Regions from separate parts of the Homo sapiens genome. Here all the other regions are linked to region 1. The links come from fine-mapping of genetic effects on gene expression. A gene starts in region 1. Each other region holds a variant in brackets. All regions are shown on one strand. Distances are from middle to middle.

Region 1 (4,087 bases):
CCTCACTGCAACCTCTGCCTCCCAGGTTCAAGCGATTCTCCTGACTCAGCCTCCCAGGTAGCTGGGACTACAGGTGTGCACCACCATGCCTAGCTAATTTTTGTATTTTTAATAGAGACGGGGTTTCACCATGTAGGCCAGGATGGTCTTAATCTCTTGACCTCCTGATCCGCCTGCCTCAGCATCCCAAAGTGCTGGGATTACAGGCCAATTCTTGTATTTTTAGTAGAGATGGGGTTTCACTATGTTGGCCAGGCTGGTCTCAAACTCCTGACCTCAAGTGATCTGCCCGCCTCAGCCTCCCAAAGTGCTGGAATTAGAGGCTTGAGCCACTGCACCTGGCCTGGTTTAGTCTCCTTTTAGAGATGAGAAAACTGAGGCTCAGGGAGGTAACCTGTTCAAGGTCTTACTGTCTTGAACACCATAGTTGCAAGTGACAGAGCTGAGTCTCACATGCAACCTCAGACCTGATACTGACTCCAGAGCTGTGCGCCTAAGCACTAGAGCACATAGCCTCCTTGCCCCAGGGAAAGAACAATGGGAGGTGGTGGGTGACCTCTGGGTCTCAGGGCCCTGGGATATAGGGACTGTGCCTTTTTTTTTTTTTTTTTTGAGACAAAGTTCCACTCTTGTTGCCCAGGCTGGAGTGCAATGGCGCGATCTTGGCTCACTGCAACCTCTGCCTCCTGAGTTCAATCGATTCTCCTGCCTCAGCCTCCCAAGTAGCTGGGATTACAGGTGTGCACCACCACACCCGGCTAATTTTTGTATTTTTGGTAGAGACGGGGTTTCACCATATTGGTCAGGCTGATCTTGAACTCCTGACCTCAGGTGATCCACCCGCTTTGTCCTCCCAAAATGCCGAGATTACAGGCATGAGTGCCTGCGCCTGGCTGGGACTGTACCTTCTGGATTTTCAAATGAATGAAATGAGTATTTCTTGAGTGTTGGCCACGTGACCCCCCAGCACCATGTCATGTGCTGGGTATGCACACACGATACTGTTTCATCCCCGGACGGCTCCGAGAGATGAGTACCAATATTATCACATCTTACGTAAGAGGACACTGAGTCTCAGAGAGGCAAAGTCAGTGTCCCTGGTGCACCCAGCTAGTGGGGGCTGGGGTGGGTGTGAAGGGGCCAGAAGCTTCCCAATAAGTGCCTGAAGGGCAAGGCTAGGGCATTTGTAGTTCGAGGCTCTACCACTGTGTCTAGGTCAGACCTAGGAATGCCGCAGGTGTTGCATAAATGCTCATCAGTCCAGGCTGGACCGCTCATGCCCAACTAAGTGCCAAGCCTGGCCTGGGTGATCTCACAGCCTGCATTCTTTGCCCTACACCTGTTGTGGGAAAACATACTCCCAGCATGCTGTAAATCCTCTCATTCTTAGCTAACCATGTGACTCCCGTTCTGGGCCAGAAAGATGGTCACAAATACTTAGGACTCTGGCCTTTCCCGCCGCATGGCTACTGACCCCACCCCCTGGGCTTGGAGGGCTCTAGGACCCAGCAACCTGCGCAGGGTGAAGAGTGTGTGAGGTCCTGACCTCCAGGTGTCTCCCCTGTTTCCTCCTCCCATTCCCTCTTCTCTCTCCTCCCTCCTTTTCTCTCCCTTCTCCTCCCCTCTCTTCATCCTTCCTCTTCCTTTGGCTCCCTGCCTCTGCTTCCCTCCTCTCCTGTCCTTTCCCATCCCCTCCCTCCTCAGCCCACATCCTGCTCCTCCCACCGCGGTGGTCACATGGGGGCGCCGCCGGATTTAAGCTTAATCTGCCTGGTGCTCAGCACAGCATCCTGGCTGTGGCGCGTGCTGACTGAGCTAGTCTTGGGGTCCTGGAGAAGGGGGCTGGAGGCATGCCCACAGCCTCCCCCCCATGAGCTTGGGGCTGGCGGGGGCACAGGAGGTGGAGCTGACACTAGAGACGGTTATCCAGGTGGGTCCTGGGGGCTGTGCCCACCCTGTCTGGGGCGGGGCAGCGTGGACTTAACAGGAGTGGTGAGAGGTGTGTGCGTCTTGGGGATCAAGGGGTGGGAGAGGTGTGGTGGTGGTGGGGTATACAGGGGCCCCCCGCTTGCAGTTCCTGGCAAGATGGGGGGCAGAGGTACACACAGGGTGCACCTGCTGTGGCTCCCTCATCCCAGTGCCCTGGGTTGGGAGAAGGGGGTCTCTACTGCCAGATTTTAGGGCTTGGGGGACCTCTGGCATAGCCAGATCCTCATCCATCTAGGGTCGGAACCGGATTGGGGCCCCCAACACTGGACTGCCTCCAGTGGGGTTTGGGAGTTACCCGTAGGGTTTGGTTCTCATCTCTGGCCCTGGGCCTTCTTCCTGGGGCAGTGAGCACACAAGAGGCTCTTTGCATGGGGATTTTTTGGATTCTAACTCCCAGGCTTCACTCCATCTTGAGGGGGCTCCTGGGGACCTGTATCTTGGGCAGTAGGATTCTGTGGCTCTCCCCACGAGGCCAGGGAGCCCCGGGTCCCATGTCCCCTGAAGACCCTCTCGCTTTTCCCACAGACACTGGAGAGCAGCGTCCTGTGCCAGGAGAAAGGCTTGGGCGCGCGGGACCTGGCCCAGGACGCTCAGATCACCAGCCTGCCTGCCCTTATCAGGGAGATTGTCACCCGCAACCTCTCCCAGCCTGAGAGCCCAGGTGCCACCCCCATCCGCTCCCCTCCACAAACACCACCCACATTTTACCTCTTCTCATGTCCCTTTCCTGAGCAGTCACCATGATGATCATGACTGTAACTCACTGTGGGGCAGGCACAGCTTTATGACAGAAGAACCCATTTTACAGATGAGGAAACAGAGGCTCAGGGATGTAATTTGTCCAGACTTATTCCGCATGTGGTGCAACTAGAAGGAAGGGCCGAGCATCTCCTGCGTGCTTGCCTGTAGCCTGCTGCAGAGATGTGAACCCCAAATCCCGTATTCCCACCCGGGGAAGGTGTGAGCTGGCTGAACCCAAGATACAGGAAGAGGGCAGCTCAGCTCAGACCAGGGTTTTGCGGAAGTCTGAGTGGATGGCGCCGTCCATCCGTTTCCCACGTGGGCAGGAAGGCGGATGGTCCCTGCTCCTCTCAGTGGGTGGCGCACACGGTGTAGTTATGTGGCTTGAGGATCTGGGAAAGGCACACTCAGTTGCAGCTGGTGTGCTGGCGTGTGGCGTTTTGGTGCTCTAACCATTGTCTGTGTTCAACTCCCAAGCTACAGACGGGCCCCCTCCTTGGGAGCGCCAGGGATGTTGGCGCCCTGGAGCCCCAGACAGGGAGAGACTCAGAGGGCCCTCACCCTGACACCTGGGGTGTATGTCCAGTTCTCCCAGGGTAGAAGGGGAACCCACAGGAGGTGGACAACCCCGCTTCTCCCGCTGGCCTTTCTTTCCCTCTTCTCTCTTTCTCCTTCTCCTCACAACCTGACCTATGCTATGCTCTCCTGAGCCCTAGCCTTTAAAGTTCCATGAAGCCCTTCTCTTGAGCGAGGCTTTGATGCTTTTCTGGGAGGATCTGGTTACTACTATTCTACCTTTTTTTTTTTTTTTTTTTTTTTTGAGACAGAGTCTCGCTGTGTTGCCCAGGCTGGAGTGCAGTGGCGCAATCTCAGCTCACTGCAACCTCCACCTCCCCGGTTCAAGTGATTCTGCTGTCTCAGCCTCCCAAGTAGCTGGGACTACAGGCATACACCACCATGCCCAGCTAATTTTTGTATTTTTAGTAGAGACAGGGCTTCGCCGTGTTGGCCAGGCTAGTCTCAAACTCCTGACCTCAGGTGATCCTCCTATCTCGACTCCCAAAGTGCTGGGATTACAGGCGTGAGTCCGTGCCCGCCCCACCCATATTACAGATAAGTAAATCTGAGGCCCCGGAGAAGAAGACTAATTGGAAAAGGAGGGAGCAAGAACTCAGGGGTCTCCTGGCTCCTAGACTGAGTGTCTCTCCTGCACCTCCCAAACCTGCTGGGCCACACTTTAGCTGGAGTTGTGTTCACTTTACGTCCAGCTTTGTATCCCCTCCTTGCCTTCCTCCCTGTTCTCAGCTCTGTTTGCAGGCCTGGTGCTGCAGCCATTCCCATCTGGACTCCTCCCAGG
Region 2 (4,087 bases), 54 kb after region 1:
TAATTTTTTTTTGTATTTTTACTAGAGACGGGATTTCGCCATGGCCAGGCTGGTCTCGAACTCCTGGCCTCAAGTGATCCGCCCGCCTCAGCCTCCCTAAGTGCTGGAATTATAGGTGTGAGTCCCTGTGCCCCGCTTTTTTTGCCCTCTTAATGGCACCCATCTCCCCAACTTCCCAAACAAAGGCCTTGGATGTCAGTCCGCCTGCCTTGACCCTGTGCCCCCCCCACCCCATGGGCGGCCTCCCATTTTTGCTGTGTTCCTCTGGTGATGGGAACTCAATGTGCTCACCAAGCAGCCCCGGTCATCAGAAAGCTGTGTCCCTGAAGCCTTCCATCTCCCGTGCAATTCCCACAACACGCATGCGCGCGTACACTGTCATGACGCAGCGTTCTGGGCAGGGCAGAGCTGGAGCCGGCGGGTAAGGCGGTGGGGCTGGGACTGCGGAAGCACAGGGCACCTGAGCAGATCGTTCACTCCAAGGGGTCAGGAGCCTCTCAGGACAGTCCGCGTTGGGGGCACTTGGCTGGCCCCTCTGTGCTCTCCACCGAAAAAGTGACTTGATCTTTTGTAAAAACTTGTTTTTAATTTTGTATAAAATAAAGGTGGTCCATGCCCACGGGGGCTGTAGGAAATCCAAGCAGACCAGCTGGGGTGGGGGGATGTAGCCTACCTCGGGGGACTGTCTGTCCTCAAAACGGGCTGAGAAGGCCCGTCAGGGGCCCAGGTCCCACAGAGAGGCCTGGGATACTCCCCCAACCCGAGGGGCAGACTGGGCAGTGGGGAGCCCCCATTGTGCCCCAGAGGTGGCCACAGGCTGAAGGAGGGGCCTGAGGCACCGCAGCCTGCAACCCCCAGGGCTGCAGTCCACTAACTTTTTACAGAATAAAAGGAACATGGGGATGGGGAAAAAAGCACCAGGTCAGGCAGGGCCCGAGGGCCCCAGATCCCAGGAGGGCCAGGACTCAGGATGCCAGCACCACCCTAGCAGCTCCCACAGCTCCTGGCACAGGAGGCCGCCACGGATTGGCACAGGCCGCTGCTGGCCATCACGCCACATTTGGAGAACTTGTCCCGACAGAGGTCAGCTATTGGGGGCAGGAAGGAGGCAGGGTCAGGGTGGAGCTGGGTGATGGGAACCGCTGCCCCTCCCCCAACTCTGGTGATGGGAGTGTTTTGAGGATGAAAAGTAGCAAGGAGGGGAGCTCAGGGTGTCCTGGAAGTGGGCCTGGTGGATAATATGTGTTGAATAAACATCAGGTGGGTGGCTAGGTGGCCAGATAATGATGCGGGTGTGGGGACAGGGGAGGTCTTGGGGAGGTGGCCTTCCTACCTCGGAGGAGCTCCTCATGGGCACACACTGTACGAACACAGATCTCCTTGTTAATGACGTACACACGGCGGAGGCTGCGGGGACAGGGCACGGGAGGTCTCAGCCCCACTTCCACCCAATCCCACTGGGATAGCCCAGACAGAACCTGGCACGGGAGCCCGGACAGAACCTGGCACGGGAGCCCGGACAGAACCTGGCACTGGAGCCCAGGAGTGGAGGAGGTCCCTGGCCCAGGCTCAACCACAGAACTGAGCTCAACTTAAGGACTCACTATCTTTCCTCCAACTCCCACCTTGGCGGGCCAGAGCTGTCCCCTGTGCCCTCTAGCCCCCCATGCTCCGGAATCCTCCCGACAGCTGCCCATCTGTGCTCACCTGTAGAAGCAGACCTCGTTGAGACACTGTTTGCAAGGCCTGTGTATGGAGTAGAGGCGGGTGCACGGGTACTGTTCCTCACGGCAGTCTGGTGACAGGTGGGGTCAGACTAGGAGCCCAGAGTGGGGGGCGGCCCCCAGCCTCACCCACCTGAGGCTGGCTCACAGGGCCTAGTCCCCCCTGTACCTTCAGGCCCCGTGCAGACACCCATACCTACACATGCCCACATAGACCCACGCAGCATTGTCAGACTTCCCAGGGCTGTAATATTCACGTATCAATTCACAACCGCACTTACTATAGAAGCCTAAGTTCAAACAGAAATTTGCACCCACCCATGCATCGCCACAAAAGCCCATACCAACTCCCGAGCAGACGTGCCCACGCTCACAGAAGCCCACATAGGAGCGCTCACACCAACCCACACGAGAGTGAGCACACGGATTCTCCTGCACACACACACCTTGTTCTTTCAAGCTCTCAGCTAGGGCAGCCGGAGGGCACCGCTCAGCCAGCCTGCACTCCCTGGCCCTTCCTCGCCTCCACATGTGCACCACTCAGTCTCTCTGGCTGGCAGGAAGCCCCCAGCACACTCCCTGCCCCTCCCAGTATCTGTGAGGTCAGGGGCCTTCCTAGGCTGCCAATTTAGCCTCCAGCCAGGCACACTGGGGACAGGTGGGACCTCCTGGAGCTGCCT[G/A]GGGGGCCTGGTGATGCCAGCCTACGGCAGTCATACTGCCCACACTGCCAAGAGCCCACATGGGCAAGGGCCAAAGACCTCCAGCCCACCAGCACCACCCCCTACTCCACCCCAACTTCAGGGCGTGCCTCCATTTTTCCAGCTGTCAAGAAAGCCCTTACCAAGAGGCCCAGGCTCTGTGGGCTCCAGCTCTGCATTTCCTGGTTCTGGTGTGGAGACAGAGGTAGGCAGACATCACTGGGAGGGGTCTCCTCAGGGCAAGGGGAGTCACCTCTCCCAGCCCTGGCAGACCCCCACTCCCAGGGTTGACAGGGTGGGGAGGGGTGAGGCAGGAGCTGAGACGGGTGGGAGCAGGGTCTGGGGCCTACCTGGGGTTGGGGCTGGGATGACTTCCTGTTGGACTTGCTGCTGGGACTGGAACTGGAACTGTTCCTCGGAGGGCCGAGGAGTCACCTCTGCAGCCAGGGGAGGATAAGGGGGTCTGCTCCCTCTACCCCTCCCAGGGGGTCTCCCCACCCCAGCTGCCGGCCCGTCCTATCCTACCCCTAGCCCGTTACCTTGATAATCATAGTAGTCTGGGTTGTCTGCAAACAAAGATGAAAGTGGAATTGGTGGGAGTAAGGCTAATCCCCCAGCCCCTGGGGCAAACAAGTTCCCTCCTGAGCCAGGGACCAACCCCCAGAGTTCCCATCAGCGTGTCCAGTGCGGTCCCTGGCTGAGCCAGGCACATCTGAGCAGCCAGGCCTCGGTGACCCGGCAAGGCCCTTACCGATCTGGTCGCTATAGTGGGTGTACTGGACGTGGTCAGGGAACGGCGGCAGCGGGTCCAGGTCATACTGGCCCTGAGCCAGCAAGCCTGCTGTGGGGAGGCAAAGCATGTAGGGTACCCCATCGGGAGGGGCAACGGGGGCCCGAGGCGCTTCTGGAGAGTGGAGGCGGGGGTCACAAGGTCAGGCCCATAAGAGCCTAGGACCCCACAAGCAGATTCCTAGAGGATCCAGACTCTTCTTCGATGGTAAAGACCCTTCCCCACCCTGGTCATGGGTCACCTCCCTGACCTTACCCTGCCCCTTCCTGTTGCTGGCCTCCTGGCTGCTCCTAGGACTCCACATGCTCCTGCCTCCCTCAGAGCCTTTGCACCTGACACTCCCTGGGCCTGTGAGGCCTGCTCAGCTCCTTCAGGTCTTCCCTGGAATTTCAGCTGTGCCAAGATGCCGCCCCACCTCCAGCCCACCAGCCCTCCTGCTGATTTCTGTCCAGCACTCAGCACATGCTGGAGTTTCTCATGTCTGCTTGTTTCCTATTTGTCTCCCTTCCCTGGACTGGCAGCATGATGAGGAGCAACGATGTGTCTGCCTGGTTCATCGCTGAATCCCCAGGGCCTAGCCCAGCACTTGGCACGTGGTAGGGACTCAACACATCGCTGCTGAATGAATGAATGTTGGCCCTGCTAGGACTTTTGTGGTCCTCATTGATTCTCTTCATTTGGCCAGTAGGGACCCCCACAAGGTCAGGACTGTATAGAGCAGAAGGGCCCTGAATGGATCTAGAACTCAAGCATCCGGACTCCCTGCCTTGGGTGCCCCTGCACCTGCACATCGGCTCCCAGAGAGGCCTTGTGCCTTGTGCCCACGGAGTCCTTGTGCCTGGGACGTGCCCTCCAGAACCCTGCCTGCCTGCTGC
Region 3 (4,087 bases), 240 kb before region 1:
AATGAAAGTAACAGGTACCAGTATCAAAACTGCAGTGACTCACCAGAGACACTTCATGCTTGCCAGCTTGCTAAGCTGTTTGAGTCCAACAACTGCATGGGGTCCTGGGTTAGTCTCCTGCCGCTACTTTGGTGAGTGTTGTTGTCACTTTACCTTGTGGTGGCCAAGCCCCTAAATGCACTCTTGGGTTATGCAGTATAATTTTCAGCGTAAAAGACAAGTAAAGAGCCATAGCGAAGTGAAAAACAACCACGTGCAGTGGCCGGGAATTGAACCCGGGTCTCCCGCATGGGAGGCGAGAATTCTACCACTAAACCACCAACGCCTCTCTGGAACTACCCCCTGGAGGATAACAGAAAAGAGTAACCACAAAGATTTAGAAACTGTTCTAAGCGGTTTTTTCAAGTGTCGACTAAAAGCTAACAAAGACATCCAAACCAAATGTGTTTTTATAGGAAACTTTTATTAGACAACGTTATAAATATCAAAATAGCTCATTTGTCGGATCAAACTCTTAACTCTGAAAAAGGTCTTTCTACCTGCATTACAAACCCCTATAATAAAACATCAGAAATTCATTCATGTTTCTTTTTTCTAATCCTAAATCTTCCATCATCAACCTCAAACTGCTGCCTTAGAGGTTCTGAGAAGGTAACCTAACTGGTAGTTTAGGTAAGTAAAGTTCAAATCCAGGGAGGAAATAAGAAGCAGAAGCAGAATTAGAAGAAAGACGAAATAAAAGGACAGAACCACGGTAGAGATAATGAAGAAACAAAGGTTGGTCCACTAAGTTAGTCTTTTGTCGTTGGTTTTTTTTGGCAAAAGAGTAATGATCGGTCTCGTAATCATTATAATACTATTATTTGTCTGCTTGAAGATGTATAAAGCATTTGAAGGAAATGTGATGTGAAAAGATGAAGAACGCTTGCCGTCAATGTTTCATTGTTTGGGAGAATCCCATTTCCTAAGTTAATATGCTTTGATGTGTTAGCTATGTAAGCAGTAGACTAGTTTAAGGAAATATTGACGGTCAAATATTAACATATTAGTCTTTTGATGAAGTTCAAATATTAGAGAGATTTCTTTCCTCAATTTTCAATGGAGACATTCAACTGAAGAGACAAATCCAGAGTTTTCTCCACATGTTGGGTCTGGGAGTCATTATGACTTTTTCAAAGACAGGAGCTGTGACATGGAATCATGCTTCTTCTCAAGCTGAGAAGCCAAGCTAGGTCCAGGCTGAGTCATAAACTTGAGCCCACCAAGGAAATCATCCTTCACATTGACCTCGCAGAGCTTTGGCTGTTCTCTGTTCTTTGCCCAACACCCAAGACACACACCAGCTCTGGCCAACAAACCTTAACATATGATCTATATCAACCAAAGCTACATTTATTCCCAAATCTCCTTCTAAAATACAAACCTGTACTTTCTACTCTCAACTTCTAAATCTACCAAGGCCTCATATGCATCTGAGTCACAGATGCTAAAACTTAACCGGTTTTCTGAGGATTATTTGAGGAAGGGGTATGCATGCAAATGTATATACATAATTCATGTGATTTAGGAATATGGACTCTATGACTTCCAGATGCAGATTTAGAACCTTTTTAAAAAATATTTTGTTTTTGTTGTCTTGCAAATCAGCCAGATCTGCAACTTACCAGAGTAAAGCCAAACCAAGCGGGACCCTTAGGAAATGCGCTAAGATGTCATCCACTTTCAGTGTCAGCCTGTGAAAATTCAGGCGACAGAAGAGAATAAAGAGAATCTTAAGGAATTTCTGGAACCAAAGCTAATATTAAGCAGGCCTCTTGCTGGCAGACCAGTGGAAATTGTACCTGGTCAACAATCTGTCTAGATTGAGGAGGTCTAAAATGTAGCCACAGGTTCAAATACTTTTCTGTTTGTTTCCCAACCTCGATTAAACTCAC[A/T]AAATTTAGGGACCAAAAAAACAAACAAACAAACAAAAAAAAAAACAAACCACGACGTTCCCACCCAGTCTCGAATCAGGGACTTTTCTCGTGTGAGGCGAACATGATAACCACTACACCACAGAAACTGCATATGCACCAAAAAAGGCAAAATATCATCATGAAAATCTTAGATCAGCCATTTCTATTATCGTTTCCAAAGTAAGAAATTCAACTGCATTTCGAAATTCGACTGAAAAAAGCCCAATAAGCACCAGCCATCAAGAAGACTATGGCTCCCAATAGGCCCAGGCTTAGCGTTCCGCGCCCACCCCCAACACGAAAACCATGGGGACCCACACCCGGGCTTCGGGGACACATACCCGGGCTTCGGGCTCCCGCATCCTCCCCTGGGTATGCAGTTCCAGAACTAAGCGCCGTGTGCGGGATCCTCCCGGCTGACACTCTTCGGCTCCCAGAAGCTGCAGGAGCCGGCGGGCTTTGAGCCTCCGAGCCCTGGGCGCCCCGTGCCTCTCAGGAGGGTGGACGCCGCCCTTCCAGGGATGCGGACCCCGCCTCGGGGCCTTTTCCCCGGCGCCGGCCGTCGGGGCTCTTGGCTCTTCTCGTCCTCCCAGGAACCGTAGAACCCTCCTTGCCCTCCCTCCCGTAGGCCGAGGGGCGTGAGCTGCGCCTGTTTCCTCACGGACCCTTTGGCCTCAGCGCCTCGATGTCTTGCAATTCTTAGCTCACGGCTCTTCCTCCTATAACAAGGCCCTTCCATGTCATGTCCCCTACTCCCTCTTAGCACCAGAGAGATGTCTCCCCTGCCCCACAGGTCACATTCCATGAGTGGTGAAGTTTCTAGAGTTGTAACCATGGCATCTCCAGCCCTGTGTGTTCCTCTCCATGCTCCCCATTGAGCAGTCTTGATCCTATATTAGCCCCAGGAAATGAAATAGAAACAGGACCCTACGTTAAAAAGTTGCAGTGGAGATGTGGTGGCCACCAGGGGCTGGAACTGTGGGGTGACTGAGAGTATCCAAAGCCCTGTGGCCAACTTACTGGTGCTGAGTGTGCTGGTGAGCCTCTCTGTCAGCTGGCTTCCCCGGGCCAGTTGCTCCCGGAAGCTCTGTCCCAGGTAGTAGTCAATGTCATTGCTCCTTAGGAGATCCTCAAAAGATTTTACTGTATCTTTTGCATGCTGGGTGAGAAGATAACAAACACCTCTCCCTTCTCGTATTTTTTGCCGTAGGTAAGACAGTTCCCGGGCCTGATCCTGAATCAGGGAATCATATTTCCTAATGCAGGACAGAAGAGGAAAGGGTGGATGATAAGTTATGGGGGCTTCTGTAGAGATTTCTATGAGAACATCTCTAAGGAACTCCCCCAAACTGAATTCTGGCACATAAGCCATAGGAGGCATTTAACAGCAAATTCTACCCTGATAAAGTATCGCACTAAAAATTTTAGTATGGGCCGGGCGTGGTGGCTCATGCCTGTAATCCCAGCACTTTGGGAGGCTGAGGCAGGCAGATCATAGGTCAAGAGTTCGTGACAAGCCTGGCCAATATGGTGAAACCCCTCCTCTACTAAAAACACACACAAAAATTAGCTGGGCATGGTGGCACATGCCTGTAATCCCAGCTACTTGGGAGGCTGAGGGAGGAGAATTGCTTGAACCTGGGAGGTAGAGGTTGCAGTGAGCCGAGATGGCACCACTGCACTCCAGCCTGGGTGACAGAGTGAGACTCTGTATCAAAACAAAACAAAACAAAAATTTACCATGCCACTGTTCTTCAACTGTTATATATATGTTAATTATATGTCCCTAGATAAATTTTTTGGGAGCTGGGCCTCCAGCTGGGATACTCTCTGGAGGAGACTCTTCAGGTCCTTTTTGGCCTGAAGTCCTGGAGAGTAGAAAGCCCCAGTGCCATCAGACAGCCACAACTCATCCTCATCAGTGACACTATGAGGTGAAGACCCCTCCAGGGTGTCAGGAGCTCTCAGCTTCCAGGGTCTTTCCAGACTAGATGAATAATCACTTGTAACCAAGAGGGACTGGACCCGGTTCTTGAGGTTTTGAATGACCTTGTTGGCATTCTGCAGCTGGGCCTTCAGATCTTTGATGTCCTTTCATAGGACCCAGATGTTTTCTGACTTTCCATATACCC
Region 4 (4,087 bases), 190 kb before region 1:
AGTAGATTGCAAAAATTTTCTCCCATTCTGTAGGTTGCCTGTTCACTCTAATGACAGTTTCTTTTGCTGTGCAGAAGCCCTTAAGTTTAATTAGATCCCATTTGTCAATTTTGGCTTTTGTTGCCATTGCTTTCGGTGTTTTAGACATGAAGTACTTGCCCATGCCTATGTCCTGAATGGTATTGCCTAGGTTTTCTTCTAGGCTTTTTATGGTTTTAGGTCTGACATTTAAGTCTTTAATCCATCTTGAATTAATTTTTGTATAAGGTGTAAGGAAAGGATCCAGTTTCAGCTTTCAACATATGGCTAGCCAGTTTTCCCAGCACCATTTATTAAATAGGGAATCCTTTCCCCATTTCTTGTTTTTGTCAGGTTTGTCAAAGATCAGATAGTTGTAGATGTGTGGCATTATTTCTGAGGGCTCTGTTCTCCTCCATTGGTCTATATCTCTGTTTTGGTACCAGTACCATGCTGTTTTGGTTACTGTAGCCTTGTAGTATAGTTTGAAGTCAGGTAGCGTGATGCCTCCAGCTTTGTTCTTTTGGCTTAGGATTGACATGGCAATGCGGGCTCTTTTTTGGTTCCATATGAACTTTAAAGTAGTTTTTTCCAATTCTGTGAAGAAAGTCATTGGTAGCTTGATGGGGATGGCATGGAATCTATAAATTACCTTGGGCAGTATGACCATTTTCCCGATAGTGATTCTTCCTACCCATGAGCGTGGAATGTTCTTCCATTTGTTTGTATCCTGTTTTATTTTGTTGAGCAGTGTTTTGTAGTTCTCCTTGAAGAGGTCCTTCACATCCCTTGTAAGTTGGATTCCTAGGTATTTTATTCTCTTTGAAGCAATTGTGAATGGGAGTTCCCTCATGATTTGGCTCTCTGTTTGTCTGTTATTGGTGTATAAGAATGCTTGTGATCTTTGCACAAGAATTCTGTATGCTGAGGAGTCATTTTTAAAATAAATATATTGCAAATGACTTTTCCCAGTCAGTGAAAAGTCTGACTGAAAGCTGTCAACTGAAAAATCACACAATTTATAAATTTAGAAGGGAGATTTTATTTTTTATAAATGGTTACAGCCTGCAAGGTGGCCATTCTGACAGACAGGGAGGCATACCCTCTTGCTGCTGAAACCTGAAAAGTACGTTTCCAGGGAGGGGAGGGGGGAACAGGGATTTATGTTGATGTGGTGGGCCACATATACATATTCAACAGGGAATAGGAGGAGCTCTGAATATTCATGAAGGGATCCTGCTGCATGCATGCTGAGTAAACATGCCTGTTACATGCAACCCATGTTCATTTTGGGGTGGAGACAACATTTAAATACATTATAATTAGGCCCTATGCTTCAAAAGGGGAAGCAGGGACACAAAGGCAGTCAAGTGCACAGCCTCTGTAAACCGTCCAGAACCCGTCCACAGCCAGTGCTCTCTTATCAAGGGGAAGTTACTGAAATCAGTCTCTTGTCCAATCAAAGCTGTAGTTATGGCTTGTGTAGGGAGGGCTCAGTCAGTTTATGGTAATGGGTGAGCTGCAAGTGCTTCAGCATTGCTTATCTCAAGGCCAGTGCTTGTTTAGCTAGAGAAAAAAAGGAAGAAGAAAAAAACCTGTGGCAATTGGAACATAGTTTATTCTTTAAGTTGAGGGGCGCATGACTCCACCTTGCCTGGCGTGGCCTTAGGTCTCGTTTATCATACCATATCTTACTACTGCAAGGAGTCTGTTCTGTCAGTCTTAGGATCTCTATTTTAACAATAATGCTGGTCAGTTGTGTCTAAACCACAAAGGGAGAGAGTATAAGGAGAGGTGTCTGAGATTCCAACTACTGGGCAGGAACTCAGTAGTTAAGACTTCTCTGGGGTCTCCTTGGCCAAGAAACAGTCTGTCCAGTTGGTTGAGTGGCTTTGGATTTTAATTTTAGTTCTCAAAGCATTTAATTTGATGAAATTTTGCCATATTTTTTCTTTATTTTTAAAGCCTGTTATGTTCTATAAGAAATCTTTCTACTCAGGATAGTGAATGTATTCTCTTAATTTTATCTCTCTATGAGTTCCAGCGTTTTAGTTTTAATTTTTAAATTGATGACATCTAAAATTCTACTCCTAACCAAAACATTCCTGGGGGTGACCAAGGACAACTCCAAAAATCTTCCATAAATGGAAGTAAGACTTACTCCTTGAAGAACTTACTGGGATCTGGGCCTGCAGGGCACAGTGGCTTTAGTGCACCTCTGCTCTTACGACTATTCAGAAATTGTCTTTGTGAACCCATCAGGCTGTTTCAAAATCAGCAATTTAGGGCTTGCTTGCAACATGCAGTTATGCAGCAGCTGTTTTGTGGATCTGGTGAGTGCCTGCACGCATAGTTCCCCGGGAATTTTCTGAATTTGAATTCTCATG[G/A]TATTTCAAGTGGCTCAGTTGTCTCTTTCTTTTCTTTTCTTTTCTTTTCTTTTCTTTTTTTTTTTTTGAGTCAGAGTCTTGCTCTGTCACCCAGGCTGGAGTGCAGTGGCTGGAGTGCAGTGGCGCGATCTCAGATCACTGCAAGCTCCGCCTCCCGGGTTCACGCCATTCTCCTGCCTCTGCCTCCCCAGTAGCTGGGACTACAGGCACCCGCCACCACGCCCGGCTACTTTTTTGTATTTTTAGTAGAGACGAGGTTTTACCGTGGTCTTCATCTGACCTCGTGATCCGCCCGCCTCGGTCTCCCAAAGTGTTGGGATTACAGGCGTGAGCCACCGCGCCCGGCCAGTTGTCTCTTTCTTTTGCCTACTGCCACACACGTACCACCAAATCCTGCACTCCAAGCTGCTTCTACACCCTGGACTCCCAACCTCCAGTTAGACAATCCACATCTTCCCACACCTGCCTCAGGCTCCATCAGGCTACTGTGCCTCCTGCAGCAACCAGGCCAGGGGGAATCTGGATTCCTATTACACTTCTGAGGAAGGTGGTCAGGGAGTGTGGAGGATGTGGGTGGGAGGGGGTGAGGTTGAGGGCAGGAGTACACTGTGGTCTTCTGTCTTCTACCTCATTGGCCCAGGTGCTGCTCTCCCTCCGGTTGTCTGCTTTCAGCCCTGCCTGGGAAATCAGGCCGGCGCCCTGATCTTCCTGACTCTCATTTTGTGAGGAACCTGAACGGATGAGCCATCGCTCTTGTCCCACACGTTCTGTCCAAAAGGTGCCCTCCTCTCTGCTTGCTCGGGGGCCTGCCCTCTGAGCTCTGGCACTCAGGCTGGGATGCCGCCCAGTACAGAGGCTCTGCAGCCCTGCAGGGGTCTGACTGTTCCACACCAGCAGGATAAAGGCCACAGGGCATGCTGTGGTGGAAAAGCATTCAGAGGTGTGGGCTGAAGGCCTCTCTTTCCACAGTCCCTTTGAAGACACCATGGAAGTAGGCACCCCCTTGACAGACAAGGTGGCCCAAGGCCTGGCTTCACATGCAGGCTCTTGGGTCCCAGCGGGTCCTCTCTGTGCCTGGTATAGCCAACTGCTTCACGCATCTTACCCGGTTTCCTCTCCTCCACAACCCAAGCTCCTCCTCGACCCCCTTGCTCAGCTGTCCTCAGGACAGCAAGATCCCCAGCCCTTGGAAAAGCCCATCTCTAGTGCTTGGGGAGGGAGTTGGGTTCAGGTGGTCTAACCACAGAAGAACAGAGAACCTGAGGCAGGAGGAAATCCCTTCCCTTGCTGGGTCTCTTGGCACAGCCCATCCAGGGGTCTGGGTCAGGGTCCAGGTATACTCTACCCTCCTTGAGGACCTGGGTTTTCAGGCCCCCGAGGTTGGTCAATGTGGAGTCTTTCCCACTGTTCATCTGGGAACTGAAGGAATATCCCATGGGGCCCTCTCTTACTCATTAGAGACACCCAGAAAATACTCCATCCAGCAGAAACTGGGTGCAGTGTACCAGACCACTATAATTATAATTGCAGGATGTGGAGGTCAGATACGTTTTGTGGGTATTTTCTCTCTGTCTGTGGCTTGCTTGCCTTTTCGCTTTCTTAGTGGTATCTTTTGATGAGAAGGTGTGGCTAATGTTGATGAAGTCTCATTTATCATGTCTTTCTTATATATGTATTTTTTC
Region 5 (4,087 bases), 400 kb before region 1:
TTTCTGGATGTGGCAGGCTAGGAGGTTGGACATGCCACCTCAAAACCCTCCCCTCACTAACTGCCATTATGATGCAGGAGAACAGCAGAGGGAATTGGAAGTTGGATAAAAGGCAGAGTGAGTGAAAGCAGAGAAAGAAGCAAGGTGATGGGGTGGGAGAGCAAGAAGCAAGATATAAGGCAGAAGTTGAGCAGCCAAAACAAAAAGTAAGATTTAAAAAAGCAAGCAAGGCTGGGCACGGTGGCTCATGCCTGTAATCCCAGCACTTTGGGAGGCCAAGGCAGGCAGATCACCTGAGGTCAGGAGTTTGAGACCAGCCTGGCCAACATGGCGAAACCCCATCTCTACTAAAAATACAAAAAATTAGCTGGGCGTGGTGGTGCACTCCTGTACTCCCAGCTACTTGGGAGGCTGAGACAGGAGCATCGCTTGAACCCGGGAGGCAGAGGTTGCAGTGAGCCGAGATTGCACCACTACACTCCAGACTGTGCAACAGAGCGAGACTCTGTCTCAAAAAAAAAAAAAAAAAAGAAAAGCAAGCCAGGACCCCATGGCCGGTGAGATCCAAACCAGTAAAGGGGCAGCTCCTCAGAGATAGGCATGTGCATTAGAGAAAAAAAGTATCCTTAACATGACTCCATATGATAATCAGCTCATTAAAACTCATGCATATGGACTGCACATCATGCATGTACTTAAAATTATGGGATGGAGGCAATGTGCAAGCACACAAGGGCCAAAGTAACTAAGCAACCCACCTATCAATCAAAAGGCAAACACTGGCTAACGATTAGGCATCCTTGGGAAGAGAAGAGAAAGAAACACACATAAAAAGACCCAACGTACACCAAACTAATACTGATCTCACATCCCAGAGATCAGCCCACTCTCCCCACTCTGAGACTGTTACTGTGCTTAATAAATTTTGCTTTGCTTTGCTGCTTTGTGTGTGTCATGTACAGTTCTTTGTTTGGGACACCAAGAGCCTGGAAATGCACGGCACCATCTGGCAAGAATTAGGATTTTTTTTCCTAAGGGTTAACAATCCAAGCCTTTGGAGAGACTTGCTTCACTGCTGTTATCAACCAACAGCCTGATGCTTTCCCTCCCTTTTGTGGTTTTGACAAAACAAGCAAGCAGCATTCCCTCCTGATAAGAGACCACCGACCTAGGAATCATTCTGGCCAGACTACAGAGGATGTACAGTGAGGGTTTTCATGTCCATTGCCTCAGATTTTGACGTCAGAGGGCCACAAACTCCACTCTCAGATGATTGCTAACGCCACCATTTTATGAACATGAGCCCCATGGAGAGGCACGCAGCTCAACTGCACATCTGCACATTTTTCCTCTTATAAACATTCATATTGGAATATTATTTGGTACTGCTCCCGTGAAAGATACATTTGCAGAATGGACTCAGATTAGAAGCATTATACAAGCACTATAATGTAGCAATGGCACATCCAGCTCTCTACACTATAGAAATGTCTGCAGGGTAAACATTTCCACAATGACCAAAGATATCTGTACAGGACTGGTGACTGCAGCATTCTTTGTAATCCTAAAACTATGAAACTAAAGTCATCTCAAAAACATTTTGTTTTTTTGAGATGGAGTCTCGCTCTGATACCCAGGCAGTGCAGCGGTGTGATCTCAGCTCACTGCAGCCTCCACCTCCCAAGTTCAAACGATTTTCCTGCCTCAGCCTCCCGAGTAGCTGGGATTACAGGTGCATGCCACCATACCTGGCTAACAAAAACATTTTGAAAAGGGTTAAATAAATCATGCATAAACTGAGGAAAAATACTATTTTCAAAAATGATGGAGAGAATCACTTTCATGATGAATGATTCCACTGGTCACATTATTGATAGAGCAATCAGGAAACCCAGGCACATCCTGGAGGTAATACTGGACTCCTATTACTAAAATATGAAAAAATGGAGACACGTAAA[T/A]ACTCGTTTAAGCGTATAACGGACTGAATTAGAATTTTATCACATCAGAAGTGGGTTCCTAGGTCTCTGTTTCAGGATTCCTTAGTGACACAGGTGTAAACCCGGCATTTCAGGAGATAGCCGGCTAAGAATCTGGTCGGGGAGGTGGGCGGCCCTTGACATGGATCTGTCATAAATTAGTGGCTTGAGACTTTGGGAAGATAAAATCTTCCCCATTTATCTAGTGATTGACATTGCGTGAATGCTTCAAAAGTTCCAATAAGCGTCCCTGGGTGGGCTCGAACCACCAACCTTTCAGTTAACAGCCGAACGCGCTAACCGATTGCGCCACAGAGACAAGCGCTTCCAACTCTACTGGGCATCTAGGAAGGGCGCACTCACTGAACTTCCTCCGTTCCGTCTATTCTCAGGGCCCACCGGGCAGGACCACTGAGCAAGGCCTTGGAAAACCAGAGAGATTAGAGCGGTGAGTCGCGCCGGTCACGTTGGACGCCTGCGTGTTAGGAGATTCTGGAGCCAGAAGAACAGCAGAATTGCCTTCGCCCGCCCTGCCCCTCGCCTGCTGCAGAAGCTTCCAGAAACTCCCTGGTGGGCGACCCAGCCCGAGCTGCCTGGGGCCCCAAGGGAAGCTGAACGCCCTGTGGGCTCCTGGGATGGTTCTTCCCGTTCTTTGCGCCGCCTTCACCCATTGAAGGAGCCTGTGCCCACCCTGCCCAGTCGCTTTCCGGGCCGCTGAGGAGCTTCCGCTGCCATCTTCGGATCCTGTGTTCCGCACGGGGGCTCCACCAGGGCAGGGATGGTGGTGAGGGTCGCTCGTGGGTCCCCTCGCGGGGAGCAGGGTCTGGTACTCACCAGGGCGCACGACTAGGACTTGTGGAATGAATTCATCGTCGCCTTTAGCTTTTAGTCCTTTGAAGAGCCCTGAGAGTGGAAATCAAGAGATTTTTTCCACGGGGAAGTTCTTTTTACAAAGCGTTGATTTCTCGGCACCCGGCAGGGAGGGCAACTGGCAGGGTCTCTGGCGCACCTTCTGCGCGGTGGAGCCACGGGGGCTCAGCTGGGCGGTGGTGCGGCCGTGGGGTGGTAGGTCAAGAGCTGGGAAAGGAAAAAGCAAAAGCTGGGAAAGAAGCCGGGGAGCGGTGGACCAGACATCCAGACCTCCTGAAAGGCTCATGAAGGGGCACAGGCAGGATCTTCTGGAAGTGAGAATTGTTTTGTTTGTTTGTTTGTTTATTGTAGTAGAATGGGGAAATGGAGAGAGAACCTGAAAGAGCCCCAAACTCGAGGACCTATTGCTCCCCAAGAATAACATCTTCCAGAAGAACTAGACAGAAAACTAGGCGTCTGGGAACTCTGAAATCCTTGGAGGAGTAGCATCATCATGACCCTCTGTGTTCCTTTTGGCAAAGGACTTGCTCCCATTGTTTGCTTGTTCAATTGTCTGTCCGTTAAATAAATAAAACCCTTTTCCTATATCTTTAAAATTACGTTGGTTTTATCATTTTATGATTACAAGTAATGCTGCAGTCATCATTCTTGTACACTCTCATTGGCCACTGGTGTATTTCTATAGGGTGGAGGCCTGGAGAGTAGTTGTTCCAGCATAGTGTTTACATAGCTTTTATTTCATTCCGTTTTCTTTCCTTTGTTGCTTTATTAGCTATAACCGTTTTCTTATTTCAGAGGCTGCTTTAGGGTTTCCGGAATACATCTTTAATTTATCATAGTCTGCTTTCTAGTGTCATTATGCCTCCCTTTCTGGCCTTTATCCTAGTGTTATGTATCTTTACTTTATGCACTATAACCTTTGTGATTCATTATTATTACTTTTATTTGTTACGTCAAATATTTTTTGAAAGATTTAAATTATAAGAAAACGTGTAGTACATGCTTTCTAAATGCCATTTCCAATATTCGTTTCTTTGTGTAGGACCACATTTTTATCTGGTATCCTTTTGCTTCTGCCTGGAGGACGCAAGATTTCTTGTAGCGTGGGTTGGTGAATTCTTTTAGCTTCCGTATGTTTTTCAATGTTCTTATTTCACTCACAGTTTTGAAATTTTATTTTTGCATAGAATTCTAGGTTAACTTTTTTTCTCTAGGTACTTTAAAAATGTTGCCATTTATGA
Region 6 (4,087 bases), 95 kb after region 1:
CTGGTCTCGAACTCCTGTGCTTCAGAGATCCACCTTGGTCTCCCAAAGTGGGATTACAGGAGTGAGCCACTGTGCCTGGCCGAGTTTCAGCACTTTGTATGGTAGTTATCCTGGTGCCAGGAAGGGAAGGGGCCTGAAGAGAATTTGACCAATGGGAGTCCCTCCCTGACCTGAGCAGTGTGACGGGAGAGATGAGAAATAAGCAATATTAGCCTTGCACGGAAAAACCATCCTCCCAACAGGGAGGCCTCTAGCTCTGGCCAGTCATGTCAGAAACATGCCAGCTGTCAACTCAGGGTTGGGAAGGAATTACTCTTGCAGCCTCCCAGCATTCACTCGAGGGCCTTTCACATAGTAGGTACTCAAGACAAATCCGTTCACTTGAGTTTATGGAGCATTTACTCTACTGCAGGCAAGATGCTTTCACATTTACTTTTAGACTTCAACCATAATTCTGAGAGGGGAATGCTGTTAATTCCCATTTTACAGATAGGAAAATAGAGTCACAGATGTTCAACATGTCCAGAGCTAGGTAAGAAGGGATGGCTGGCTTCAGTCCTACGAAATTCTATTTTTATTTTTAATTTCTTTAGAGACAGGTTCTGGCTCTGTGATCCAGGCTGGAGTGCAGAGGCACGATCCTAGTTCACGGCAGCCTCTAACTCCTGGGCTCAAGCAATCCTCCCACCTCCCAAAGCGCTAGGATTATAGGCGTGAGCCACAGGGCCAGGCTGGAAGTATTATCTTGTAAATGAAGGCACACTGGGCACAGAAGTAGCATACAGGACAAAATACTGTTCCCCACACAGGTCTGCAGTTTTACTGGAAAAGCCTTTGTGACTGTTGCAATAGAACATTTGTCTCCAATTCAATGAAAGATTAAGCAGTAAATTAAACTATCAGTTGATAACATATACCAATTTAACTTGGAGTTCAACTGCGGAGAGTGACCATCAGAGTCAACCCAGCCTCTGATGACGCTGATCTGAAGTGGCGACTCCTAAGCTACACCCTGCCTCTTATCAGTTGTTGCGGACCCATCTTTACAAAGCATTAAGTTGTTCATGAGAAGCAGGGTGTGCTTGCCCACACCTGTAATCCCAGCACTTTGGGAGGTCGAGGCAGGTGGATCGCTTGAGTTAGAGATCAGTATGCTCAACAAACATGGTGAAACCCTGTCTCTACTAAAAATACAAAAATTAGCTGCGTAACGCCTGTAACCCCAGCTAGTTGGGAGGCTGAGGCAGGAGAATCGCTTGAACTTGGGAGGCGGAAGTTGCAGTGAGCCAAGATTGCACCACTGCACTCCAGCCTGGTGACAGAGCGAGACTCCAAAAAAAAAAAAAAAAAAAAAAAGTCATTCATGAGAAAAACCCATCTTTCCCTACAGATCTGGAGATTAGAAGCCAAGTCAAATTATCCATGAATCCAAGGAATGTGACCTTTCCCCAGGCTGATAGAAAGCCATTAGGTCTGAGCTGGGGAACAGAAGCTATCCACAGACATGGCCCGCAGTTCAAGTTCCACTGTCTTTCAAGAAGCCAGTGCACTCCACAATCTTAGGCTTCAGCGCCGCAGGGCCATGTACTGTGTGTCTCACTGAGATAGTCAAGAATTCCAAGATGCTGTAGGGAGGGGCACACGGCCCTGTTCTTGAAATTTCTGATGTTTGTTCCTTTTTCCTTTGTGACCTTGGCTCCTAGGTGGCAGGCAGGCAACAAATCTTGTTCATCCTTGTCCCCAGCACCTCACCTTCCATAATGCCTGAGACA[G/A]ATGCTTGTTGAATCAGCCCTTTAAGCCAGAAAATGCTCATTAAGGCTCATTCTCGGTGAGTCACACGTTTTCTCAGCTGCTTGCCTCAGGATGCATGAAACCTTTGTTTTCCGGATGATCCAGAGGTTTCCAGCTACGACTTAAAAAAGCAGCCTTGGATGAAAAGGTGAATAGGGACCACCCGAATGTGCCTTAGTAGGGGAATGGTTAAATAAGGGTACACCCATGCCACAGTGCTCTTAAGCAGGAGTTCCAAAAATTTTTACATACACACACACACAGATAAGGGAGGTCTTGGCTGGGCACGGTGGCTCATGCCTGTAATCCCAGCACTTTGGGAGGCCGAGGCGGGCGGATCACGAGGTCAGGAGATCGAGACCATCCTGGCTAACACGGTGAAACCCTATCTCTACTAAAAATACAAAAAATTAGCCGGGCGTGGTGGCGGGCCCCTGTAGTCCCAGCTGCTCTGGAGGCTGAGGCAGGAGAATGACGTGAACCCAGGAGGCGGAGCCTGCAGTGAGCCGAGATCGCGCCACCACACTCCAGCCTGGACGACAGAGCGAGACTCTGTCTCAAAAAAAAAAAAAAAAAAAAAACACACAACAAAACAACAACAACAAAAAGGTAGGTCTTTATTAGCACTGAAATCCCTTCTACATTGTGAGGTAAAAATAGAGGCCGGGCGCAGTGGCTCACACCTGTAATCCCAGCACTTTGGGAGGCTGAGACGGGCGGATGACGAGTTCAGGAGATCAAGACCATCCTGGCTAACACGGTGAAACCCCGTCTCTACTAAAAATACAAAAAAATTAGCCAGGCATAGTGGCGGGCGCCTGTAGGCCCAGCTACTTGGGAGGCTGAGGCAGGAGAATGGCGTGAACCCGGGAGGCGGAGTGCAGTTTTTTTTTTGGGACTCCGTCTCAAAAAAAAAAAAAAAATAGCTGCTGGCAGACTATAGGATACCCCTTTATTTTTAAAATCTTTTTTGGTATGTTAAGAAAAAAAAGAGACAGGGTCTCACTATGTTGGCCAGGTTGATCTTGAAGTCCTGGCCTCAAGCAATCCTCCCACCTTGGCTTCCCAAAAGTGCTAGAAGCCACTGTTCCAGGCTTTTTTTTTTTTTTTTTTTAAAGGAATGGGGTCTCACTATGTTGCCCAGGCTGGAGCGCAGTAACTATTCACAGGCGCAATCATGGCAAACCATAGCCCCGACCTCTTGGGCTCACGTGATGCTCCCACCCCAGCCTCCTGAGTAGCTGGATTAGGGGCACACGCCACAGCTCCTGGCTCTATGGTACCTTACTTTTGAAGGGAGAAAGTTTTATATATGCTGCATAACTGTAATAACGTAGAGTGTGGAAGGAAATGTCTAAGCTATCAACGGGATGAGTTTGGAGGAGCTTCCACTTTTACTTTCCCCCTTTCTCCTTTTTTGCATTGCTTTTTTGTTTTGTGGAGACAGGGTCTCACTCTGTTGCTCACACTGGAGTGCAGCGGTGTGATCTCGGTCACCGCAACCTCCACCTCCCAGGCTCAAGTGATTCTCCTGCCTCAGCCTCCCAAGTAGCTGGGATTACAGGCACGCACACCCACTGCCCAGCTAATTTTTGTATTTTTAGTAGAGACGGGGTTTCACCACGTTGGCCAGGCTGGTCTTGAACTCCTCACCTCAAATGATCCTCCCGCCTCAGCCTCCCAAAGTGCTGGGATTACAGGCGTGAGCCACCACGCCCGGCTGTGCAGTGAGCATGCCAGCCAAGGCAGCAGTGCTGTGGAGTTGATGTTTGCAGTGAGAGGCCCCACGAGGTCATTTGTGGAACTAACTGGATTCACAACTGACCAGGGTCATTGCTCTGTGCTGGAGGAATCTCAAACCTGGCCTCACCGACGTATCCAAAGACTTACCAAGATTTGGTTTTCAGTAATTCTGGTACTGAAAACTATAGAAACTGGGAAGATACAGAACACTAACACTAACTGAGTGTTCAGAATAAGTGCCAGGCATTCTCATACCAGATGAATGAAGTAGGCACAATTATGGATCCCATCTTACAGATGGGCGAATGGAGCAGCAAAGAGGTGAAGGAACTTGTCCAAGGTTGTCTAGCTGGTGAGTGGCAAAGCTGGGAACAAGCTGCAGGCCCTGCTGATGTCAGTTCCACGGCTCATCACCTCCTTCCAGCTAGGGTACCCCCACCCCCGCTCAGCTCTGAAGCCCTGTCCATCTCTCCAAGGACAAGGACTCCTGGCACCTTCACATTCCCCTGCGGCAAGTAAAGGAACAGGTTCTTTTTTTTTTGTTAATAAAGTA

Which allele goes with the higher level. Alleles are on the strand shown, and positions count from the first base shown. SD is a standard deviation of normalised expression in the study named. Not every link is listed here.
With allele A in place of G in region 4, the expression in lymphoblastoid cells of the gene that starts at base 1,783 in region 1 is higher (small effect, 0.37 SD a copy in GEUVADIS).

What was found. PIP is the estimated chance that this variant, and not a neighbour inherited with it, causes the effect. A credible set is the group of variants that fine-mapping cannot tell apart.
Region 2: its variant is the best candidate, but not a certain one, in a credible set for the expression of CROCC in whole blood (TOPMed, PIP 0.76).
Region 3: its variant is the best candidate, but not a certain one, in a credible set for the expression of CROCC in stomach (GTEx, PIP 0.89).
Region 4: its variant is the best candidate, but not a certain one, in a credible set for the expression of CROCC in lymphoblastoid cells (GEUVADIS, PIP 0.90).
Region 5: its variant is the best candidate, but not a certain one, in a credible set for the expression of CROCC in thyroid (GTEx, PIP 0.59).
Region 6: its variant is the best candidate, but not a certain one, in a credible set for the expression of CROCC in adrenal gland (GTEx, PIP 0.66).

The regions. Positions count from the first base shown.
Region 1 is chr1:16,920,149-16,924,235 of GRCh38, forward strand. CROCC (ciliary rootlet coiled-coil, rootletin) reads left to right here and starts at 1,783. Exons shown (of 37, transcript NM_014675.5): 1 at 1,783-1,930; 2 at 2,515-2,650. The coding sequence starts at 1,871. RefSeq lists enhancers at 425-1,197, 1,198-1,969, 1,970-2,741, 2,742-3,513, 3,697-4,087.
Region 2 is chr1:16,973,936-16,978,022 of GRCh38, forward strand. MFAP2 (microfibril associated protein 2) reads right to left here. Exons shown (of 9, transcript NM_002403.4): 3 at 3,174-3,263; 4 at 2,962-2,988; 5 at 2,773-2,859; 6 at 2,566-2,610; 7 at 1,708-1,795; 8 at 1,334-1,407; 9 at 567-1,088. The coding sequence ends at 985. LOC105376806 (a long non-coding RNA gene) reads left to right here and starts at 1,926. Exons shown (of 2, transcript XR_947003.3): 1 at 1,926-2,627; 2 at 3,734-3,860. RefSeq lists an enhancer at 515-1,322. The variant G/A (reference allele first, on the strand shown) is at 2,405.
Region 3 is chr1:16,678,017-16,682,103 of GRCh38, forward strand. TRG-CCC4-1 (tRNA-Gly (CCC) 4-1) reads right to left here and starts at 325; the gene lies at 255-325. The variant A/T (reference allele first, on the strand shown) is at 1,935.
Region 4 is chr1:16,731,070-16,735,156 of GRCh38, forward strand. No RefSeq gene overlaps it. Among named protein-coding and RNA genes, the nearest start is that of TRG-CCC5-1, 5.8 kb to the left of the region's middle. The variant G/A (reference allele first, on the strand shown) is at 2,406.
Region 5 is chr1:16,518,364-16,522,450 of GRCh38, forward strand. It overlaps TRN-GTT5-1 (tRNA-Asn (anticodon GTT) 5-1), which reads right to left and starts at 2,295; the gene lies at 2,222-2,295. The variant T/A (reference allele first, on the strand shown) is at 1,959.
Region 6 is chr1:17,014,657-17,018,743 of GRCh38, forward strand. SDHB (succinate dehydrogenase complex iron sulfur subunit B) reads right to left here. Exons shown (of 8, transcript NM_003000.3): 8 at 4,066-4,087. Among named protein-coding and RNA genes, the nearest start is that of ATP13A2, 4.8 kb to the left of the region's middle. RefSeq lists enhancers at 1,143-1,677, 1,678-2,213. The variant G/A (reference allele first, on the strand shown) is at 1,773.